Linked DNA regions of Homo sapiens: region 1 is linked to region 2. Evidence: fine-mapped expression QTL. A gene starts in region 2. The other region holds a variant in brackets. All regions are shown on one strand. Distances are from middle to middle.

What was found.
Region 1: its variant is fine-mapped to the expression of PCDHGC3 in blood mononuclear cells (TOPMed, PIP 0.93).

The regions. Positions count from the first base shown.
Region 1 is chr5:141,509,981-141,519,924 of GRCh38, forward strand. PCDHGA1 (protocadherin gamma subfamily A, 1) reads left to right here. Exons shown (of 4, transcript NM_018912.3): 4 at 967-2,995. The coding sequence ends at 1,193. PCDHGA2 (protocadherin gamma subfamily A, 2) reads left to right here. Exons shown (of 4, transcript NM_018915.4): 4 at 967-2,995. The coding sequence ends at 1,193. It overlaps PCDHGA3 (protocadherin gamma subfamily A, 3), which reads left to right. Exons shown (of 4, transcript NM_018916.4): 4 at 967-2,995. The coding sequence ends at 1,193. PCDHGB1 (protocadherin gamma subfamily B, 1) reads left to right here. Exons shown (of 4, transcript NM_018922.3): 4 at 967-2,995. The coding sequence ends at 1,193. It also overlaps PCDHGA4, PCDHGB2, PCDHGA5, PCDHGB3, PCDHGA6 and PCDHGA7, and 15 more genes. RefSeq lists enhancers at 3,554-4,179, 3,725-3,844, 4,180-4,805, 4,585-4,834, 4,806-5,431 and 4 more. The variant G/C (reference allele first, on the strand shown) is at 5,524.
Region 2 is chr5:141,471,181-141,483,311 of GRCh38, forward strand. It overlaps PCDHGC3 (protocadherin gamma subfamily C, 3), which reads left to right and starts at 4,786. Exons shown (of 4, transcript NM_002588.4): 1 at 4,786-7,366. The coding sequence starts at 4,937. The region is part of intron 1 of PCDHGA1 (protocadherin gamma subfamily A, 1); the gene reads left to right. The region is part of intron 1 of PCDHGA2 (protocadherin gamma subfamily A, 2); the gene reads left to right. All of the region lies in intron 1 of PCDHGA3 (protocadherin gamma subfamily A, 3), which reads left to right. It also overlaps PCDHGB1, PCDHGA4, PCDHGB2, PCDHGA5, PCDHGB3 and PCDHGA6, and 12 more genes. RefSeq lists enhancers at 4,526-4,635, 5,093-5,636.

The sequences.
Region 1 (9,944 bases), 38 kb after region 2:
GGTTCCCTCATCTGTAAAATGAGGGTCATACCACATAGCTGGCTGGGCTGTTATGTAGAGGTTAAAAGTGATTGTGCATGTGAAGCATCCAGCAGAGTGCCTGGCACACAGTAGGTGCTCAAATGCTGTTTTGAAATACAAAAATTAGCTGGGCTAGTGGTGTGCACCTGTAATCTCAGCTACTCAGGAGGTTGAGGCAGGAGAATCACTTGAGCCCAGGAGGCAGAGGTTGCAGTGAGCCGGGATCGCGCCACTGCACTCCAGGCTGGGCGACAGAGCAGGACTCCATCTTAAAAAAAAAAAAAAAAAAATGCTGTTTTGAAATGGAGGCTTGGAAGAGCACTCTTCACCCCCACCCCACACACTTACTAACGGAACTACCGAATCTCTACTCGTGCCAGGCCTTGCTTGGCAAAGGCTAGGGGCATGTAAAGCCATGGTTTCATGGCTGCTGCCCTCCAGGAGCCCATGGTCTAGTGTGGGAGTCAGAGGCTCCCTTGAGAAAGCCAGGGCAAGGAACTGAGAGCCCGTGTCACAGCCCTGAGAGAAATACCAGCGAATGTGTTTTGAGCACTTACATCTACCAGGCACTATTTTACGTACCTGACATACATTTTCTTATTTAGCATTCACTAAAACCAGAAGAGGTGGTTACCATTATCATCCCCATTTTGCAGATGAGAAAACTGAAGTGGCATAAGGAGGTTAGGTAGACTTGCCCAGGATCACAGTGAGTAAGGAAAGGAGCTAGGAATCAAACCTAGACTTTCTCACTCCAGAGCCTCTTAACCTCTACCCTCAACTCTTGTGAAGAGAGACTACCTTGGTGACCCCTATATTCCCAGTGCTCAGCGTGGTCAAGGCCCAGGGTGCTGTATAGGCATTCATTAACTGCTGGGGATATAAGACAGTGACTGTTGAGGACCCTAAGTTTAGCTCCCACCTGATCTTCCTCTGTCTCTGCAGAAGCTGCTGATGGGAGCTCCACCCTGGGAGGGGGTGCCGGCACCATGGGATTGAGCGCCCGCTACGGACCCCAGTTCACCCTGCAGCACGTGCCCGACTACCGCCAGAATGTCTACATCCCAGGCAGCAATGCCACACTGACCAACGCAGCTGGCAAGCGGGATGGCAAGGCCCCAGCAGGTGGCAATGGCAACAAGAAGAAGTCGGGCAAGAAGGAGAAGAAGTAACATGGAGGCCAGGCCAAGAGCCACAGGGCGGCCTCTCCCCAACCAGCCCAGCTTCTCCTTACCTGCACCCAGGCCTCAGAGTTTCAGGGCTAACCCCCAGAATACTGGTAGGGGCCAAGGCCATGCTCCCCTTGGGAAACAGAAACAAGTGCCCAGTCAGCACCTACCCCTTCCCCCCCAGGGGGTTGAATATGCAAAAGCAGTTCCGCTGGGAACCCCCATCCAATCAACTGCTGTACCCATGGGGGTAGTGGGGTTACTGTAGACACCAAGAACCATTTGCCACACCCCGTTTAGTTACAGCTGAACTCCTCCATCTTCCAAATCAATCAGGCCCATCCATCCCATGCCTCCCTCCTCCCCACCCCACTCCAACAGTTCCTCTTTCCCGAGTAAGGTGGTTGGGGTGTTGAAGTACCAAGTAACCTACAAGCCTCCTAGTTCTGAAAAGTTGGAAGGGCATCATGACCTCTTGGCCTCTCCTTTGATTCTCAATCTTCCCCCAAAGCATGGTTTGGTGCCAGCCCCTTCACCTCCTTCCAGAGCCCAAGATCAATGCTCAAGTTTTGGAGGACATGATCACCATCCCCATGGTACTGATGCTTGCTGGATTTAGGGAGGGCATTTTGCTACCAAGCCTCTTCCCAACGCCCTGGGGACCAGTCTTCTGTTTTGTTTTTCATTGTTTGACGTTTCCACTGCATGCCTTGACTTCCCCCACCTCCTCCTCAAACAAGAGACTCCACTGCATGTTCCAAGACAGTATGGGGTGGTAAGATAAGGAAGGGAAGTGTGTGGATGTGGATGGTGGGGGCATGGACAAAGCTTGACACATCAAGTTATCAAGGCCTTGGAGGAGGCTCTGTATGTCCTCAGGGGACTGACAACATCCTCCAGATTCCAGCCATAAACCAATAACTAGGCTGGACCCTTCCCACTACATAATAGGGCTCAGCCCAGGCAGCCAGCTTTGGGCTGAGCTAACAGGACCAATGGATTAAACTGGCATTTCAGTCCAAGGAAGCTCGAAGCAGGTTTAGGACCAGGTCCCCTTGAGAGGTCAGAGGGGCCTCTGTGGGTGCTGGGTACTCCAGAGGTGCCACTGGTGGAAGGGTCAGCGGAGCCCCAGCAGGAAGGGTGGGCCAGCCAGGCCATTCTTAGTCCCTGGGTTGGGGAGGCAGGGAGCTAGGGCAGGGACCAAATGAACAGAAAGTCTCAGCCCAGGATGGGGCTTCTTCAACAGGGCCCCTGCCCTCCTGAAGCCTCAGTCCTTCACCTTGCCAGGTGCCGTTTCTCTTCCGTGAAGGCCACTGCCCAGGTCCCCAGTGCGCCCCCTAGTGGCCATAGCCTGGTTAAAGTTCCCCAGTGCCTCCTTGTGCATAGACCTTCTTCTCCCACCCCCTTCTGCCCCTGGGTCCCCGGCCATCCAGCGGGGCTGCCAGAGAACCCCAGACCTGCCCTTACAGTAGTGTAGCGCCCCCTCCCTCTTTCGGCTGGTGTAGAATAGCCAGTAGTGTAGTGCGGTGTGCTTTTACGTGATGGCGGGTGGGCAGCGGGCGGCGGGCTCCGCGCAGCCGTCTGTCCTTGATCTGCCCGCGGCGGCCCGTGTTGTGTTTTGTGCTGTGTCCACGCGCTAAGGCGACCCCCTCCCCCGTACTGACTTCTCCTATAAGCGCTTCTCTTCGCATAGTCACGTAGCTCCCACCCCACCCTCTTCCTGTGTCTCACGCAAGTTTTATACTCTAATATTTATATGGCTTTTTTTCTTCGACAAAAAAATAATAAAACGTTTCTTCTGAAAAGCTGAACGTTTCTGTATAAGCGATGGAAGCTCCTGGCATGTGTGCATGAAGTGATGAGCTGAGGTGGGTGCTGGAAGAAGGGCGGAATCGGGAGGCCACTTTGTGTCATTGCGCGTCTAGATGTTTCCGAATTGCGTGTGTGTGTGTGACTGTGCAATATGGTTGTGTATGCTTGCAATGCCGTTGTGCCTATGAGACAGTGTGCGATTGTGTGCCTATGGATCTGTGTACCGTGTGCCATTGTGTGATCGGTCCGCTGTGGGGGTGGGGATCTGAGTGCGGCGTGTCAGTGTGCAGTGGAGTGTGCAGTCTAAGCTTGCGGCTGTCTCCAGGCAGAAGAGGAGACCCCGGCGCGGGCGGGGGCGGGTTGGCGCCGGGCAAACGCCTTGGGTAGAGGGGAGAGGACGTTTCGTTAGTTCCCGCCCCTTCCTGACTAAAATTGCCTACCCGAAGCGCCCCGGAGGGCTTCACGGGAGGAGGGTAGACTCTCCTTTGCCCCCGCACCCCCACCCCCGCTGCCTAGGGGTTTTGGGAAAGCCGCGGGAGTGGGAGGGAATGCGGGAGGTGATTCTTCCAAAGCCAAGTCTGCAGCTCGAGCCTCAGTTTCCCCATCTGGAATTCGCCTTCCCGCTGACATCTCCGTAGCGAAGCCTAAGAAATTGGAGGGCTCATCCTCTTCTTGCGGGGGTCAAGGGGACTGAAAGGACGTGCAGGAAATGAGATCCATCGCAGACTCAGCTCCCCTCCCTCCTTCCTGTCGGTGCTTTTCCACTCACTCGCCTGCTCTCCCATCTCCCCGCCCCCTCCGCCTGCCTCCTCGAAGCACTGTGGGATTCCGAGGTTGCTGCAGCCAGAGAAGCTGCAGAAAAACACGGAGCTGGGGGTGAAGGGGGACTTAAAAGGGGAACTACCCGGAAGGACCCAAGAACACAAAGACAGAGCCACTGCGGTTATCTGGCTGGTCAGCAAGGGTATGCGGCTTCCTCCGCGCTGCGGAGGCTCCCAGAGCCAGGTCACCCATTCTGCCAGCTCAAGTCTGTTGTCATGGGAACCAAACCTTCCAACTTAAGAATCTGGGGGCGACTTTCTAGCGTGGGAGGAAGGGTGGTGTGCACGGTTGCTGAGATGGAAGCAGGGTTTTGTTACTCAGAGCCAGGCTGCGGAGGGGCGGGGTGCCGGGCGCCTGGGTTCTATTCCAGGCACAGCAGCAGACTGGCAGAGCGCGTGAGCAGCTGTGGTTTGTCCCCTAATTGGTATGTGTGCCTATAAAGCTCTGAACCAGAAAGGCGTGGCCTCCGGGGGGACGGGAGGGAGGCGGCAGGCAACCCATCCCCACACCTCAGGCCATACTGAGGAGGCAGCTGCCCAGGCTCCAGGGCTATTTAAAAGGCTTTTATTTCCAGTTCCAGAGCCCGCCCGAATGGGTTTGTGGTCCTCTCCAGGCCTCTCCCTGTCTATCCTGGGCCTGCTCATTGCTGGTCTGGCTTTTTTGTGCAGGTCATAACGTGCTCAGACAAGTATGGCTCCAAGTGGCAAGTCATCTGGAGCATGACCTCAGGCTCCCAACCTCTGCTGGGCAGGCTCAGGTTTCCACCCCAGGGTAAACCCCTCTACTCTGGAATGTGGTCTGTGGCCACCAACAGAGCAGAGGGGATGAGAAAATGGGAGCCAGATGCTTCCCTCAGCAAGAGACACAGGTACTGCCAGGAAACCTTGCGTGACATCTGGGAACATGAAAGGTTCCAAGTGAGTTCCAAAAAAGGGCTCCAAACCAAGTAGCAGCAATGTGGAAGAGTCAGGGAGCTGAACCAGGCGCCCACTCCTTTACTGTGGCCAAACGGCCCTGAGGTGAGCTCTGGTGGGGCAGCAGCCACCATGTATTAATCATCTCTAGCCCTGTGCCCAAGTAAAGTGTCTGGCACCTTTAGCTTTTTCACAGTGATTTGTCAGGTCAACCAGGGATTTGAGGCAGGAAAGACTAGAGGAGCCTGGACTAGAGTGAAAAGAAAACAGCTCAGAAATTCACACAGGAAGCTGTAAGGCAGTACTGTTTCAATGCTTTATTAACAGTTGGAAACAAAACCAACAAACTGGAGGTGATGACATCCCAGAAGCCTATGAGGCAAGGGAAATAGGTTTGCATTTTGTCCCTCACACCTCTCTCTCTCTCTCTTTTTTTTTATTAAATGCATCTTAGCAAAAGTAGATTAAAAAAGAAAGGGTCAAAGCCCCAGATGTCAGCGAGCAGGGAGGAGGTGACCCAGGGGAGCAACAGACGCCCTGCATCAGAGTCCTCCCAGGAATAGTCCAAAGGAGCTGCTCTTGCCCCTTTATACACAAGCGCCAGCAACCAAAACCCTCCCTCCTGGCAATAAGGCCTCACTATAGTTGCCCTCATGCTTCCTAAGCTCTCTCTTGCTCTAATAACTCTAATTCTGGGCCAAGCCCAAGAGTGCCATTCTTTCTTCCTAGCTGGGGATGGAAAGCTGAGAGGGGCACAAGGAGGGCAAAAGTATCACCCTAAGCCA[G/C]AGAATTGCAGCTTCCTGTGGTTGGGGCCACCAAACAGTTCAGTGTGCCCACCCACTTCTCTTTTAGAAGAGAGCTGGGGTACAGTGTATGAAGGCACTCCTGGTGCCCAGTTCCCCAGAATGTCCAGTTAGCATCTGCACATTTGGCTTGATACATTTATACATTTATAAAAAACTCTGTGGTCTTAGAGTTCCTGCTACTCTTAGGCCTGGCCCAGCTCAACCAGAGAAGGGGTTCCTCCTGTGTCGGATTCCCTGGGAGAGAGGATCTGCCTTGGACTCAAGGGTCCAGAAGGTCCAGGGGCACATTCAGGATTGGGCCTGTGAGAAGAAATCCCAGAACTCTGTAACCTGCCACCAAAGCTTCTTACATTATGGAGGGGAAAGGGGGAAGGAACAGTTTTCTTTAAAAAAATTTTTTTTTTCATACAAAAATAGATCCATTTGCAAAACAATTTCTCAGCCAGGAGGCTCCACCTCCCATTTCCTTGTAGACAGAGGGTGAGGTGTTGGGATGGTCACAGTACAACCCATAGTCCAGATGAGATGCACCAAAGCTCAGGGAAGGCATGAGGAGGGAAGGTGGCTCAGTAGCCTGGGGTTGGTGCAGAGCGTCCAGAGAGGCAAGGGCATAAAGCGTGGCAGAAGCTGGGGGCAGGTCCCACACTGTCGCTATGCCCTGCCTGCCTGCCCACAGGCTCTGGCCTGGGCCACAGCACAGCAGGGAAACTGGTCCAGATCCTTTGCTTTGGAGGCCTTTCCCAGGAAGGTGGGGTAAAGGTGGGATTTGCTCCCTGCTTCCTTAGGAGCAGCTCCCAGTGCCACACCACTAATAATAAATAACCACAGCCAGGAGAGGGAAGAGCAGAGACAACAGCAATGAAAGGAGGGATCTAGCCCAAAGGTTTACAAGCCCCATGCTATTCTCAGGGCCAGAGAAACCACAAAAGAAAAGCACAAATCCAGCAAGACTGACCTAGGGGGGAAAGCCCATTAGAAAGTCAGGGCTGAGAAAAAGCAGGCTGGGCCTTGTCTGAGATGAGGCCCTCTGAGTAACAGAGAGGAGACAGGGTTAAGGCAGCAAACATGGACCCTGCTTTGGTAATACAACAGCCAGGGCTGGCTAAGTCGGGCTCAGGCCTCCCCTGCACTGCCCTTTCCTTCTGGCCTCCAGGCAGCTGAAGCTGTATGTGATGTTGAGAGAGCAGCAGGCCAGAGAGAAAGACAGGGTCAGGGTGGTGGGAGTGGCCACCCCAGAGGAATATCCCCTTGAGCCTTTAGGCACATGCTGCAGGGCAGGACAGTCTGCGGCTCCGCTGAGGAGCTGCCGCGGTCACAGGACCCACATTAGCTTGCACGGCCAACCAACTCCTTGGCTTCCTCAAGGATTGTGGGGAATGTCTCACTGTTCTTGGACACCTTGGCAGGAACAGCAGCCATGGCATCATCCTTGGTCAGCTCCGAAGCTAGCAGAGATGTGACTGCACACCCGGCCTTCCTGTTGGCTGCAAGAGAAGACGAGAGATTCTGTCTATGGAAGGCCTCATTTCTAATTTCTTTCAAACTCTACAGCAGATAATCAGCGTAAGCCATGCAGACATGACTACCTTGGCCACTTCACAGAGGCCCTTACTTTGAAGAAAGGGGCAGAGATCCAGCATGTGGAATATATTGTTGGGTGGCAAAGAATGTAAGAGAGTGTGGTGCAACAGGAAAGCAAGCCTTGCCCCCTTGCTTCCCTGTGTGAAAACAGCACAAAAGTTTGAACACAGACAGACAGAACTGGGCTGAAGTGTTAGCTATGTGACTTAAGGAGAGATGAAGTATTCAAAGTCTATTTTCTCGTAATAGGGATGTTGGAATTAAATAGACTAAAGTTTAGTACATAGTATTATTTTTGTTTTCTTGACAGGTCCCAGGAAACTCCTAGGCCAAAACACTTCTCAGTCAGCCCTGGGAGGGTTGTCCCTAGCAGAAGGCAACCTTCCGTAAGTGGCTGGAGAGACTCCCGCAAAGAGGAACAGCAGCCACGCACTGACACCGCACTCCCACGTGTTCCTCCAACAACAGATGCCCACATGCCTTAGCTCTTTCCCACCCCTTCAAAGGTAGCAGCCGTAATACAAATGCCAAGGGCCCTACAAGGTGTGTAGAGTATGTGGGGGTGGCATGGCGGGGGGGAGGTAGTAATAAAAACTATGCCAGGGAAGCAGAACTGGGATAAAGATGGACAGGAGAGGACCCCTACCAAGAAATCTCAGCCCAGGTGGCTAAGAGATGGTCAAGTTCCGGCTGTCATACCAGATTAGAAAAGAAGAACCAAATCAATCCACGAGTTTCTGTTCTAACTGCTGGGTTTCATCCCCAAGACTCTCATATTCATTTATGGTATCTAGGCTTATGGCCCCAGTATCTGCAGCAGGAAGGCCACTCCTTGAGACCATGCCCATCTCATGATGTTTCCTCCTCCCATGCCCCAGAACAGCACAGAGCAACTGTGTATACACAAACAGCTGTCTGGGACGAAAGAAGCCTGACACGAAAGGCCATATGTTATGGGTCAGCTTCTGCGAAATGTCCAGCACAGGCAAACCCAGAGATAGAAAATAGACTGGTGGTTGCCAGAGGCAAGGGGAGGGGAGAATCAGTAGTGACTGCTAATGGGGATTATGAAGTTTTTCTTCTGGGGATGATGAAACGTCCTGGAATTAGATAGTAATGGTTATACAATCTTGTGGATATTCTAAAACCCCTGAATTATACATTTTTAAAAGGTGAATTTTAGGTATGTAAATGATAGCTCAATTGGAAAAAAAAAAAAAAAAAAAAGACTTCCTGGAGATCTGGGAAAGCTGGAGTGGAGAAAGCAGTACCGGAATGTTTTAGAAGCAGGACCAGATGAAAGAGCCGAGCACTCCTAAATAAAGACCAAGACTGGGGCAGCTGCATGACTGGAATGAAGCGCCTTTTTGGACCAGCAAAAAGCTTTAGGTAGGCAGAAGCCAAACAGGATCAGATAGCCCGTCTTTTTTTTTTTTTTTTTGATGGAATCTCAGTCGCCCAGGCTGGAGTGCAGCAGCGCAATCACAGCTCACCGTAGCCTCAACCTCCCAGGCTCAAGTGATCCACCCACCTCAGCCTCCCTAGTAGCTGGGACTATAAGCATGTGCCACCATATCTGGCTATTTTTGTATTTTTTTGCAGAGATGGGGTCTCTCCATGTTGTCTAGGCTGGTCTTGAACTCCTGGGCTCAAGCAATCCTCCCACCTTGGAACCTAAAGTTCTGGGATTACAAGCATGAGTCACCACAGCCTGCCAAAGCCCAAGTCTTAACCAGGTCTTCTCTCCCTGCAGAGCCATGACCCAGAGCTACTGTTTTCATCCCAGGAGAGGCTGCCCATAGATCAAGCAGGGAACACGCAGCATGCACACAGGTTACCAATTTAAAGGTCTCCTCCTCCTCCTCTACTTCCCAGGGGCACAAGAGGTTGTCTACCAAGAGGAGAAAGAATAGTGAAGACCCTGACTGACAGCCACAGGACTTATCTAGTTACAGATCATAGGTATGTGCCCGAGACTGTGGGATTTTCACAAAACCATTTATTGGATTATGAACATAAACTAATGCCCCGTGACTGAGACAAGTGAGGAAAAGGAGCCTACGTGAGTGTGACTATGATGGTCTACATGTGTGCATTTCTCATACTGTCCTTACCACCAAAATCTTCCTCAGGCCTCCTACATTTCCACTCTCTTCTGAAGTACTCCCTCTCTAGACCCCATTTCTCATATCCAGAAGGGTAGTAGTTTCCTATCATTTTATTATTTCTTTGAATTCAGTCTCCAACAGTTGAGAAGACACTGCGACTCTGTGCATGTGTGTGTGTGTGTGTAACTCTAGTGGTATATATATGTTGAAATAACATCTGACTCCAGACCTTGGGAAAAGAACACTGGGCCACTTGTCCTGGGCAACACAGGAGAAGGCAGAGGTCCCATGTGGTAGGTCTTTAGCTGCTGCTTTCTGTGGTTTCTTCCTCCAAAATAAGAAGATACCAGTTGTACCTAACCAAGTGGTGTTTCTAGACTTTTCTGGACTCAAGAAGCTTCTGATGTATTACAAACTTCATAAGAACCAGGAGCAGAGAGTAGGTAGGGAGAAGATCAAAATTTCCCTTTTAAGCCTTGAAAGCCTATACACCAGGGAGGGTGTGATTTGGCCTAAGGTCAGGGGATGAGAAAGCTCTTGTTGGAACAGGTCTCCCAGCTTTCCACTCACTCACCATTATGCTCAGCAGGTTGAACAGTCAAGAAAAACTGACCTCCCCATGCTTCCCCCAACTTACTCACTTGTTATTAGACTATTGAAAAGTAGCCATAGAACCAGATAAATATTTTGACTACAAGAGAACAGTCCCAC
Region 2 (12,131 bases):
CTGGAATTACAGGCACCCACCCCCATGCCTGGCAATTTTTTTGTATTTTTAGTAGAGATGGGGTTTCACCATGTTGGCAAGGCTGGTCTCAAACTCCTGACCTCAAGTGATCCACCCAACTCGGCCTCCCAAAGTGCTGGGATTACAGGTATGATCCACTGCGCCCGGCCTCCAAGCCCCCTATTTTTATTTTGCACTGACCCTACAAGTTACGTAGCTAGGCTTAGTTATGTTTTTAGCAAGGAAAGTGTATAATCTCATGTACCTTTTGAAAGATTACTCAGGTCTCTGCATGTGAAATGGAATTTAGGGAATGCAAGAGAGGGAGTAAAAATAACAGCGAGGAAGCTATGATAGCATTTAAGGTTGCTTTGACTCAGGGGTAGCAGTAGATAGGGTAAGTAATTGATAGTTTCAAAATATATTTTGGGAGTAGTAAGCATTGGTATGGATTAGTAATATACTGGATGTGGGGATGCAGAAAAAAATATTAAAAATTACTTCTGAAATTCTGGCTGGAATAGAAGTGCCACTTACCAGGTAAGGAAGGTTGGAGACATAACATATTTGAGGGTGTGGTCAAAAGATGAGTTTGACATTATGCTATGTCATATAAAAGACATATAAAAGACTACCTATTTTATAATTCCTTTTTAATAAAATATTCAGAAAAAGCAAAACTGTGGTTGCCTGAGGCTGAAGCTAGGAAGATTGACTACAGACAAGCATGAGGGAAATTTTGGGGGTGATGAGAGTTTTCTAAAACTGGATTGTGGGGTTGGTTGCATTACTGTATAAATTTATTAAAAATCCCTGCATCGTATAGGGGCACTATATTGTATGTAGAAAGCTGTGAAAAGATTTTAAAAATGATTGACATGTCTGTGGTTATATCAATGAGTACTATTATTATTCCCATTTTATACATAAAGAAAATAAAAGAGAAGTTAAAAATAAAAGTTTCATGGTTACATAGCTACTAGGTGTAATATCCAGTATTGGAATTTGAATCTTTTTGACACTAAGACCTTACTCTCGATCATATAATACATTCACTTTCTATTTTAAAGTTATATTATAGCCGGGCACAGTGGCTCACACCTGTAATCCCAGCACTTTGGGAAGCCGAGGCAGGCAGATCACGAGGTTGGGAGATCGAGACCATCCTGGCTAACACGGTGAAACCCCGTCTCCACTAAAAATAGAAAAAATTAGCCAGGCGTGGTGGCACGCACCTGTATCCCAGCTACTAGGGAGGCTGAGGCAGGAGAATCGCTTGAACCCAGAAGGCAGAGCTTGCAGTGAGACGAGATCGTGCCACTGCACTCCAGCCTGGGTGACAGAGTGAGACACCATCTCAAGAAAAAAAAAATTATATTATAAATGCTGCATCTCATTGGTCAGAAGCTCTCTTGAAATTATAAAACAAAGAAGAAAAAAGATAAAGACTGGGAAATTGTGTTGAATCAGTATATAAATCCTGTATACTGGTCCTTCCATTTCCCCTAGAAATAAGTGATACAGGCCAGGCGCTGTGGCTCACACCTGTAATCCCAGCACTTTGGGAGGCGGAGGCTGGCAGATCACCTGAGGTTGGGAGTTCAAGATCAGCCTGACCAACATGGAGAAACCCCCGTCTCTACTAAAAATAGAAAATTAGCTGGGCATGGTGGCACATGCCTGTATTCCCAGCTACTCGGGAGGCTGAGGCAGGAGAATTGCTTGAACCCAAGAGGAGGAGGTTGTGGTGAGCCAAGATTATGCCATTGCACTCCAGCCTGGGGAACAAGAGTGAAACTCAAAAAAAAAAAAAAAAAGAAAGAAAAAGAAAAAGAAAGAAGGAAGGAAGGAAGGAAAGAAAGAAAGAAGTGATACAACAAGTTACAGCATCTTTGTTTATTATCCACTGTGAGTTGTATTACCACACTTTACTTGGCTCTTTGGCAAACTATATTATCTCTTCAGATCACTAGGGCTAGGAAGGCCCACTGGTAACTTGAAGGAGTAAATGTATCTTCTAAAAAATGCTTACTTCCAGGGAGATTGGATCCACACAAGTGAATACATATATAGTCCTTAGTGTATGCTATGATTATTTTACTATGTCAGTAGCATAAAGATTGCTATATTAATAAGCATTAAGTGCCTGCTGTGCTAGACAGTGAGGATGCAAGTGGCCACCAAAATAGCATGGTCCCTGCCCTCCTGGAGCTTCTTTTTTTCTTCTTCAGTGGGGGAAGCAGATACTTTGCTTATGCAAAAATAATTATAAAATTTAAAGTTGTGCCAAGTTCAATGGAAAAAATATAAGGTGTTCTGAGAGAGCATAACAAAGGATCCTGGTTTTAACTGGGGCCTAATGGAAGACCTCTATTAGGAAATAACATTTAAACTAAGACCAGACAGACCTGTAGAAATTAGCAAAGCAAAGGGAGGGAGGAAAAAGCAGCTTTCCTGGCAAAGGAACAATTTGTGTGAAGGCCCTGAGACAGGGAAGGGCTGGGGTTCTGACCACCCTCCAAGTGGTGCAATGGAATATAGTGAGAGAGGGAGAAGACATGAGAACTTGGATACTATGCAAAGGATTTGGTATTTTAATTCAAGAGCAGTATGATGCTACTGAGGAGCAGCTGGACAATTGTGTGATCCAATTAAAATTTTAGGAAGATGAACCTCGCTATTGTGGAGAATGCATACACAAGGGTTCTGTTGGTTCATGAAGAGGTCTTAAGAAAACTATGAGCTGGGTGCAGTAGCTCAGGCCTGTAGTCCCATCTACTTAGAAGTCTGAGGCGGGAGGATCCCTTGAGCCCAAGGAGCTGGAAGTTACAGTGAGCTATGATTATTCCACTGTACTCCAGCCTGGATGACAGAGCGAGATCCTGCCTCAGAAACAAAAACCAAAAAACAAACAACAACAAAAACAACAACAACGAAAATCTCAGAAAACTACAGGCCTTATTATCAAGAAAATGACAGGCCTTATTATTGAGAAAACTACTTACATTTTTAAAAGCTGATTTTCAAAAACCAGATTGTGAATTAAGTGATGCTGAATAGGGGAAAAAAAGACTGATAAACCAGTGTATCTCTGAATAACCCACTAGATCAGTGCTTGTCAAACTTTAATGTGTTTTCAAATCACCCTGATGTTTTGTTAAAATGTAAGTCATGTCTCAGTAGGTCTAGAGGAGGGCATTTCTGCATTTCTAACAAGCTCCCCGGTGATGCCTAGACCATTGGTCCTCACACTTTGAGTAGCAAGTGATTGGGCTATACTCTTTATTCTAAATTCTAAATGTATTCTATCTTCTAATGCCTATCAGCCCTCTTGCTGGTCTGGCTAATTATCAAACTTGAGCATTTAAAACTGGGGGTTTTCAGAGATTAATTGAAGTGTTAAAGACATGGAAATATAGGTCACATATGGCTTTTCATCTCTTCCGGAAATATCCTATATATCCTTACTTCTTTTCTACCTACCTAACCTATGTGCCTACCCCTTCACTTATGTTCAAGGTTCTATTATACTTCAAAAGGACTCTATGCAATCAAAGTGATGTCCAAGACAAATATACAGAAATAGTATGAGGCTCTAACACTTTACATCTAATGGAGTGGTTTGCATCATTAATTGAGGCTTACTCTGTGCCAGGCACTTTACCTGCCTTCTTCATTTAATAGGATAGGAGCAGGAACTCTTAGAGGTTCATTTCTTGTTCAAGGATATACATCTCATCTCTGGCTTATATCACAGTGGACTCTTTTATTCACTATCCTAATCATTATAATTTTGTTTGGTGACAACAATTCTAAATGCAGAAAAGTTAAGGCTCTTTATTCTGTGACTAAAGGCTTTGTATTTTCTAAAGATTTGTGGAGCTTTGCTGCCATTATTTCAATAATTTTATAAAGATCCTAGGTGGTAAATAGGCCTGGCTTTTTTTCTTTTTGAAATCTTCTCCGTCTTCTTCTTCATTAGCAGTGCAACTTCTTGTGGCATATGGTACCCAAGATCTTGGGAAAAGGATTGATCAAGTAAAGGGAAACGATAGAGAGAGTGTGCTCTACAACTGAGATCATGCTCCTTGTGAAAGACAGGGTAGGGAAATTTCTTATTGCTCCCTGGTTCTTAAGAAATGAGAGCTAACAATGACATCCAGTTTTAAAAGAAATAAAATCTGAATTGTACTTTTAAATTTTATAAGCCAGAGTTAAACCAATAGATTGTAACTCCTGCTAATTTGATAGTAGCTCCAGATAATGAGGAAGTGACAGGGAATGCTAATTTCATTTGGTAAGAGATAAAACTGAAATTATTAATGTCTCCACGGAAATGCTAAATGCCTCCTTACAAGTAGGGTCCGGCTAATTGTCTGTCTTCCAACAAGCCAGATTTGTTGGTGTTTTTCCAGACAATGTTGTGTAGTTTTCGGTTTGGTTCGATCCCCTTTCTTGTGATCAAAGAAAGTGATTCAAATGTTTAATGAGTCTTGATTTGGATTGGAGACTTGCAGAACGGCTAGCCTCACAGCCCCAAGGCTGGCTTTCCCTAAGGTAGGTTTCCTATGCACCGATACTGGCAAGGCGCTTTGGCTGGAAACTCTGGAAGGAAGCCAAAGGAAAGTGAAGTTCCTGGCGCTAGCGCGTGTCCTGCTCAGAGAGCCCGGCGCTAGCTCATTCTTCGTGCAGTTATTGGCTGGGACTCTGTGTGCCGCTGTCGGCCAATGAAGACGCTGGAGATCGGGCCCCTGCCCGTCCCCTTTCTGCGCCCCGGGATGAGGCAGAGACTGAACAGCCGGCGAGCAAATCAACGGCATCCAGAAAGCCATGTCGGACTCGGCGCCCAGCGCCCAAGCGCTAACCCGCTGAAAGTTTCTCAGCGAAATCTCAGGGACGATCTGGACCCCGCTGAGAGGAACTGCTTTTGAGTGAGATGGTCCCAGAGGCCTGGAGGAGCGGACTGGTAAGCACCGGGAGGGTAGTGGGAGTTTTGCTTCTGCTTGGTGCCTTGAACAAGGCTTCCACGGTCATTCACTATGAGATCCCGGAGGAAAGAGAGAAGGGTTTCGCTGTGGGCAACGTGGTCGCGAACCTTGGTTTGGATCTCGGTAGCCTCTCAGCCCGCAGGTTCCGGGTGGTGTCTGGAGCTAGCCGAAGATTCTTTGAGGTGAACCGGGAGACCGGAGAGATGTTTGTGAACGACCGTCTGGATCGAGAGGAGCTGTGTGGGACACTGCCCTCTTGCACTGTAACTCTGGAGTTGGTAGTGGAGAACCCGCTGGAGCTGTTCAGCGTGGAAGTGGTGATCCAGGACATCAACGACAACAATCCTGCTTTCCCTACCCAGGAAATGAAATTGGAGATTAGCGAGGCCGTGGCTCCGGGGACGCGCTTTCCGCTCGAGAGCGCGCACGATCCCGATGTGGGAAGCAACTCTTTACAAACCTATGAGCTGAGCCGAAATGAATACTTTGCGCTTCGCGTGCAGACGCGGGAGGACAGCACCAAGTACGCGGAGCTGGTGTTGGAGCGCGCCCTGGACCGAGAACGGGAGCCTAGTCTCCAGTTAGTGCTGACGGCGTTGGACGGAGGGACCCCAGCTCTCTCCGCCAGCCTGCCTATTCACATCAAGGTGCTGGACGCGAATGACAATGCGCCTGTCTTCAACCAGTCCTTGTACCGGGCGCGCGTCCTGGAGGATGCACCCTCCGGCACGCGCGTGGTACAAGTCCTTGCAACGGATCTGGATGAAGGCCCCAACGGTGAAATTATTTACTCCTTCGGCAGCCACAACCGCGCCGGCGTGCGGCAACTATTCGCCTTAGACCTTGTAACCGGGATGCTGACAATCAAGGGTCGGCTGGACTTCGAGGACACCAAACTCCATGAGATTTACATCCAGGCCAAAGACAAGGGCGCCAATCCCGAAGGAGCACATTGCAAAGTGTTGGTGGAGGTTGTGGATGTGAATGACAACGCCCCGGAGATCACAGTCACCTCCGTGTACAGCCCAGTACCCGAGGATGCCCCTCTGGGGACTGTCATCGCTTTGCTCAGTGTGACTGACCTGGATGCTGGCGAGAACGGGCTGGTGACCTGCGAAGTTCCACCGGGTCTCCCTTTCAGCCTTACTTCTTCCCTCAAGAATTACTTCACTTTGAAAACCAGTGCAGACCTGGATCGGGAGACTGTGCCAGAATACAACCTCAGCATCACCGCCCGAGACGCCGGAACCCCTTCCCTCTCAGCCCTTACAATAGTGCGTGTTCAAGTGTCCGACATCAATGACAACCCTCCACAATCTTCTCAATCTTCCTACGACGTTTACATTGAAGAAAACAACCTCCCCGGGGCTCCAATACTAAACCTAAGTGTCTGGGACCCCGACGCCCCGCAGAATGCTCGGCTTTCTTTCTTTCTCTTGGAGCAAGGAGCTGAAACCGGGCTAGTGGGTCGCTATTTCACAATAAATCGTGACAATGGCATAGTGTCATCCTTAGTGCCCCTAGACTATGAGGATCGGCGGGAATTTGAATTAACAGCTCATATCAGCGATGGGGGCACCCCGGTCCTAGCCACCAACATCAGCGTGAACATATTTGTCACTGATCGCAATGACAATGCCCCCCAGGTCCTATATCCTCGGCCAGGTGGGAGCTCGGTGGAGATGCTGCCTCGAGGTACCTCAGCTGGCCACCTAGTGTCACGGGTGGTAGGCTGGGACGCGGATGCAGGGCACAATGCCTGGCTCTCCTACAGTCTCTTGGGATCCCCTAACCAGAGCCTTTTTGCCATAGGGCTGCACACTGGTCAAATCAGTACTGCCCGTCCAGTCCAAGACACAGATTCACCCAGGCAGACTCTCACGGTCTTGATCAAAGACAATGGGGAGCCTTCGCTCTCCACCACTGCTACCCTCACTGTGTCAGTAACCGAGGACTCTCCTGAAGCCCGAGCCGAGTTCCCCTCTGGCTCTGCCCCCCGGGAGCAGAAAAAAAATCTCACCTTTTATCTACTTCTTTCTCTAATCCTGGTTTCTGTGGGGTTTGTGGTCACAGTGTTCGGAGTAATCATATTCAAAGTTTACAAGTGGAAGCAGTCTAGAGACCTATACCGAGCCCCGGTGAGCTCACTGTACCGAACACCAGGGCCCTCCTTGCACGCGGACGCCGTGCGGGGAGGCCTGATGTCGCCGCACCTTTACCATCAGGTGTATCTCACCACGGACTCCCGCCGCAGCGACCCGCTGCTGAAGAAACCTGGTGCAGCCAGTCCACTGGCCAGCCGCCAGAACACGCTGCGGAGCTGTGATCCGGTGTTCTATAGGCAGGTGTTGGGTGCAGAGAGCGCCCCTCCCGGACAGGTAAGGTTTAGCAAGTCATGCTTGACCCTGTTAGTGCTTTTTTATTCCTACATCATATTGAGGAAGGAATGGAGCTGTTTTTTTAGTGATGAAGATGTTTTCCTGGTGATGCATTCACACTTTCAACTGGCCCTTCCTAGATCAAAGTTAGTGCCTTTGTGAGATGGTGGCCTGCCAGAGTGTGGTTTGTGGTCCCATTTCAGGGGGAAGATACTTGACTCATCTGTGGACCTAATTCACATCCTCAGCACTCTTTTGCTATCACAACTAACCAATCTTGCTAAGGGATGGTTAAGCTAAAACACAAGATCTCAGCGATCAGAGTTTAGCTTGGTATCATTTACATTAGGAATAAGCTGCTGGATACCTCTAACCAGTGGCAGCTTCTAGGAATACAAAAACTACCTCATTCCTCCACCTTTCAAGTGATTGTGACATTTGTATTAAAACTAATAGCTTTTTGATAATTTTCCTTTGTTTATACAGATCGTGTACCTCATTCTCAGATAATTTTTTATGAATGAAATGAAATTCCAGGCATCCTTTAAATTTTATTTCAAGCATTCTACTGGAAATGATGTGCACCCTGCTTACAAAATATTTTTACCTTATAACAGTAATGCATGTTTGCTAGAAAATTCAGAAAATACAGAAAAGTATTTAAAAAATTAAAACTATAATCTCCAAACCCAAAGATAACCATTTTTAATTATAAAAGTAATAATTTATTTCAAAAATAAATCTAGGCAACCCAAGAAAACATAAAGTAGCCAGACTCAGTGGTGTGCACCTGTAGTTCTTGCTGCTCAGTGCCTGAGGTGGGAGGATTGCTTGAGCCCAGGAGTTCTGGGCTGTGGTGCACTATGCTGATCAATTGATCAATCCACTGTCTGCACTAAGTTCAGCATGAATACAGTGACCTCTTGGGAGGGCAGGACCATCAGGTTGCCTAAAGAGGGGTGAACTGGCCCAGGTTGGAAGTGGAGAAGGTCAAAACTGCTGTGCTATCCAGTAGTGGGATGACATCTGTGAATAGCCACTGCACTCCAGCCTAGGCAATATAGGGAAACCATGTCTCTTTAACAATAACAACAACAACAACAACAATCCCAGAAACTACAAAAGGAGAGTCTTTTTGGTGCCTCCAGTGTTAGTCCCTGTCCTTCCAGCCTTATTTTTCTTAAGTATATGCACAATGTGAAAGGTAGATAAATTCATATCCTTAGACAGGTAAAGCATTCATTAATTCAGGGTGGTATGCAAGGATACTATCCAAGGCATGGTATCCATGCAAGGTGACTGCAAGGCCTTTGCCCTGGAGAGAACCCTATACATACTCTCAACTGTAGGAGAAACACTGTTATTTTGTTACTCAGTGCATCATTGCTATCAACTCTTGGATTTGGCAGTTAGTCAAATGAGGTTCTACCATTTACCAACTAGGAGTCTGTGGCCAAGTTACTCAATCTCCTTTCTAAGCCTCTTCCTCATATGCAAAAAGGGAATAATAAGTGTTTTATAAGATTCATGCATGATATAATGTATGCAAAGTGTTTAGCATGGTGCCTGGCATATCATAACTGTTAAACAATTATTAGCCAGCTCCTAGCATTTTGGGAGGCTGAGGCAGGCGGATTGCTTGAGGCCAGCAGTTCAAGACCAGCCTGAGCGACATAGTGAGATCCTGTCTCTACAAAAAAAAAAAAAAATGTGTTTTCATTAGCTGGGTGTGTTGGCATGCACCTGTGGTACCAGCTACTTGGGAGGCTGAAGTGGGAGAATTGCTTGAGCCTGGGAGGTTGAAGCTACAGTCAGCTGTGATTGCACCACTACACTTCAACCATGGCAATAGAGTGAGACCCTGTCTCAAAAAAAAAAATTATCAGCTATTACTATAATTATTTTTATTAGTTCCTCACTCACCTAAAATCTCAAACACACCTTAGAAATACACATATGAGAACAACCAAAAATGACAAAGTAGAAGCACATATGAAAAGGCTAAGAAAGCATGAAAGCCAGCAAGAAATAACTGCCGCTCTTCTGGTCAGCCTGGAAAGCAACTGGCATTTTCCCTAGAACAATGTTTTCAAACTTGGTTGCACATTAAAATCACCTAGAGACCTTTTAAAAATTCTGAAACCCAGGCCACACCCCGACAAATGAAAGCACAGTCTCTGGGGGTGGGACATAGGCATCATTTTTTGAAGGTCCCCACTTGATCCTAATGTGCAGACAAATTTGAAAACCACAGCTTTGGGAGGCTGAGGTGGGTGGATCATAAGATCAGGAGTTTGAGACCAGCCTGGCCAATATGGTGAAACCCCGTCTCTACTAAAAATGCAAACATTAGCTGGGCATGGTGGCGCATACCTGTAGTCCCAGCTACTCTAGAGGCTGAGGCGGAAGCATCAGTGAGGGAGAATCAGTGAACCCAGGATGTGGAAGTTTCAGTGAGCCCAGATCACACCACTGCACTCCAGCCTGGGCGACAGAGCGAGACTCCACCTCAAAAACAAAAAGAAAGAAAGAAAAAAGAAAAGCAGTACTCTGGAACCTACCAATCCATCATTTAGCATATTTGTGAAGTAAAGTGTTATTCTGGTATTTGCAGAACCAGAATCCAGCTTTATTGGGCCAGGCCCAATTTTTTTAAAAAACATGGTAAGGTCTCCCAGCCTTAAAGTATTACATAGCATAGCTCTAAAAGATCACTGTAGGAAGACATAAAATGGTATTTCAGTCATCTAAGGGAAAAACCTTCCTAAAGCACTAGCCCCTGGACAACTATTATTTAAACATCTACAGCTGTTCAATAGATATTGGGTTCTTTTTGGAGGGATGTGACAAAATTCTTGTATAATTAGATTGTGATGATGATTGTATCAGTTTAGTACATGTAAATACACTGAAAACCATTGGATTATACACTTTAAATATGTGATTTGCATGGTATGTGAATTATGTCTCAGTAAAAATCTAGAGATGGGGCTGGGCTCAGTGGCTCACGCCTGTAATCCCAGTACTTAGGGAGGCTGAGGCCAGCGGATCACCTGAGGCCAGGAGTTCAAGACCGGCCTGGCCAACATGGTGAAACTTCATCTCTACTAATAATACAAAAATCAGGCCGGGCCTGGTGGCTCACGCCTGTAATCCCAGCACTTTGGGAGGCGGAGGCGGGCGGATCACGAGGTCAGGAGTCCAAGACCAGCCTGGCCAACATGGTGAAACCCCGTCTCTACTAAAAATACAAAAATTCACCAGGCGTGGTGGCTGAGGCAGGAGAATCGCTTGATGGTGGAGGTTGCAGTGAGCCGAGATCGCGCCACTGCACTCCAGCCTGGGTGAAAGAGCGAAACTCCATCTCAAAAAAAAAAAAAAAAAAAAAATCAGCCAGATGTGGTGGCAGGTGCCTGTAGTCACAGCTACTTGGGAGGTTGAAGCAGGAGAATCGCTTTATCTCAGGAAGCAGAGGTTGCAGTGAGCCAAGATCATGCTGTTGCATTCCAGCCTGGGCAACAAGAACAAAACTCACTCCATCTCAAAAAAAAAAAAAAAATATCTAGAGATGGGAGAATCATATGGCTGGCATAAAAAGGTCAAGTCAAAGATATGTAAGATTAAGGCTTTACGATGCTCCAGTTCTAGTAAAACAGACCAGGTACTTGTTTTGGTGTGAAATTGCCAATATAAGTATAGTACTGTACATATTAGTTGTTTAGCTTAGGTAAGTCTTTTAATCTCTTTAAACTCCAGTTTCCTCATCTATAAAATAAAGAGAATATCTACTTTGCAAACTTGTTGTGAGAGTGAAAAGTAATGCATATAAAGTCCCTGTATGGAGCAAGTACTCAATAACTATTTGTTGAACTAAAAATGATAATACTGATATTCACCATTTATTAGCATCCCTATGTGCCAGACACTGTAAACAATTAAAAGTTATCATTCTGGTACCCAGAGTACAGTATGAGACAGACATGCAAAAAAAAAAAAAAAAAAAGATAATGGAGATCTGCATAGCATAAGATGCAGTGGGACCAAACGGGAAAAAACACCTAAATGAGCCTGGAGAAAGGAAGAAATGATAGAGGTGGTGATGCTTGAGCTATGATCTAAAGGTTGAGTAGTAGCTTGTCAGACAGTAAAGGGGAAAGGACAGGGCAGGGAGGGGCCATTGCAAGAAATTCCATGCAGAGGGATTATGGTATTTCATTATCACTGAACCTTAAACTGTGTGTGTGGCCGGGTACGGTGGCTCATGCCTGTAATCCTAGCACTTTGGGAGGCCAAGGTGGGCAGATCACTTGAGGTCAGGAGTTTGAAACCAGCCTGGCCAACATGGTGAAACCTCATCTCTATTAAAAATACAAAAAATTAGCCAGGTGTGGTTGTGGGTGCCTGTAATTCCAGCTACTTGAGCAGCTACTTGAGAGGTCGAGGCAGGAGAATTGCTTGAACCCGGGAGGCAGAGGTTGCAATGAGCTGGTGTCAGGCCACTGCACTCCAGCATGGGCAACAGAGAGAGACTCCATCTCAAAAAAAAAGTGTGCGTGTAAAACAGACAGTCTTTGTAGGAGATGAGGTGAAGCAAGTAGGCAGGAGTTAGATCCTGAGTTACCTTTGGGCCAAGCCAAGGAGTTTTTATTTTATTCCATATAGATGACAGTCACTGCAGAAATTTGAACTGATATGCATATATCATGAGGTTTTTTTGTTTTAGAAATATTATTCTGTCAGTCATAAGTGAAGGGACTGGGGACAT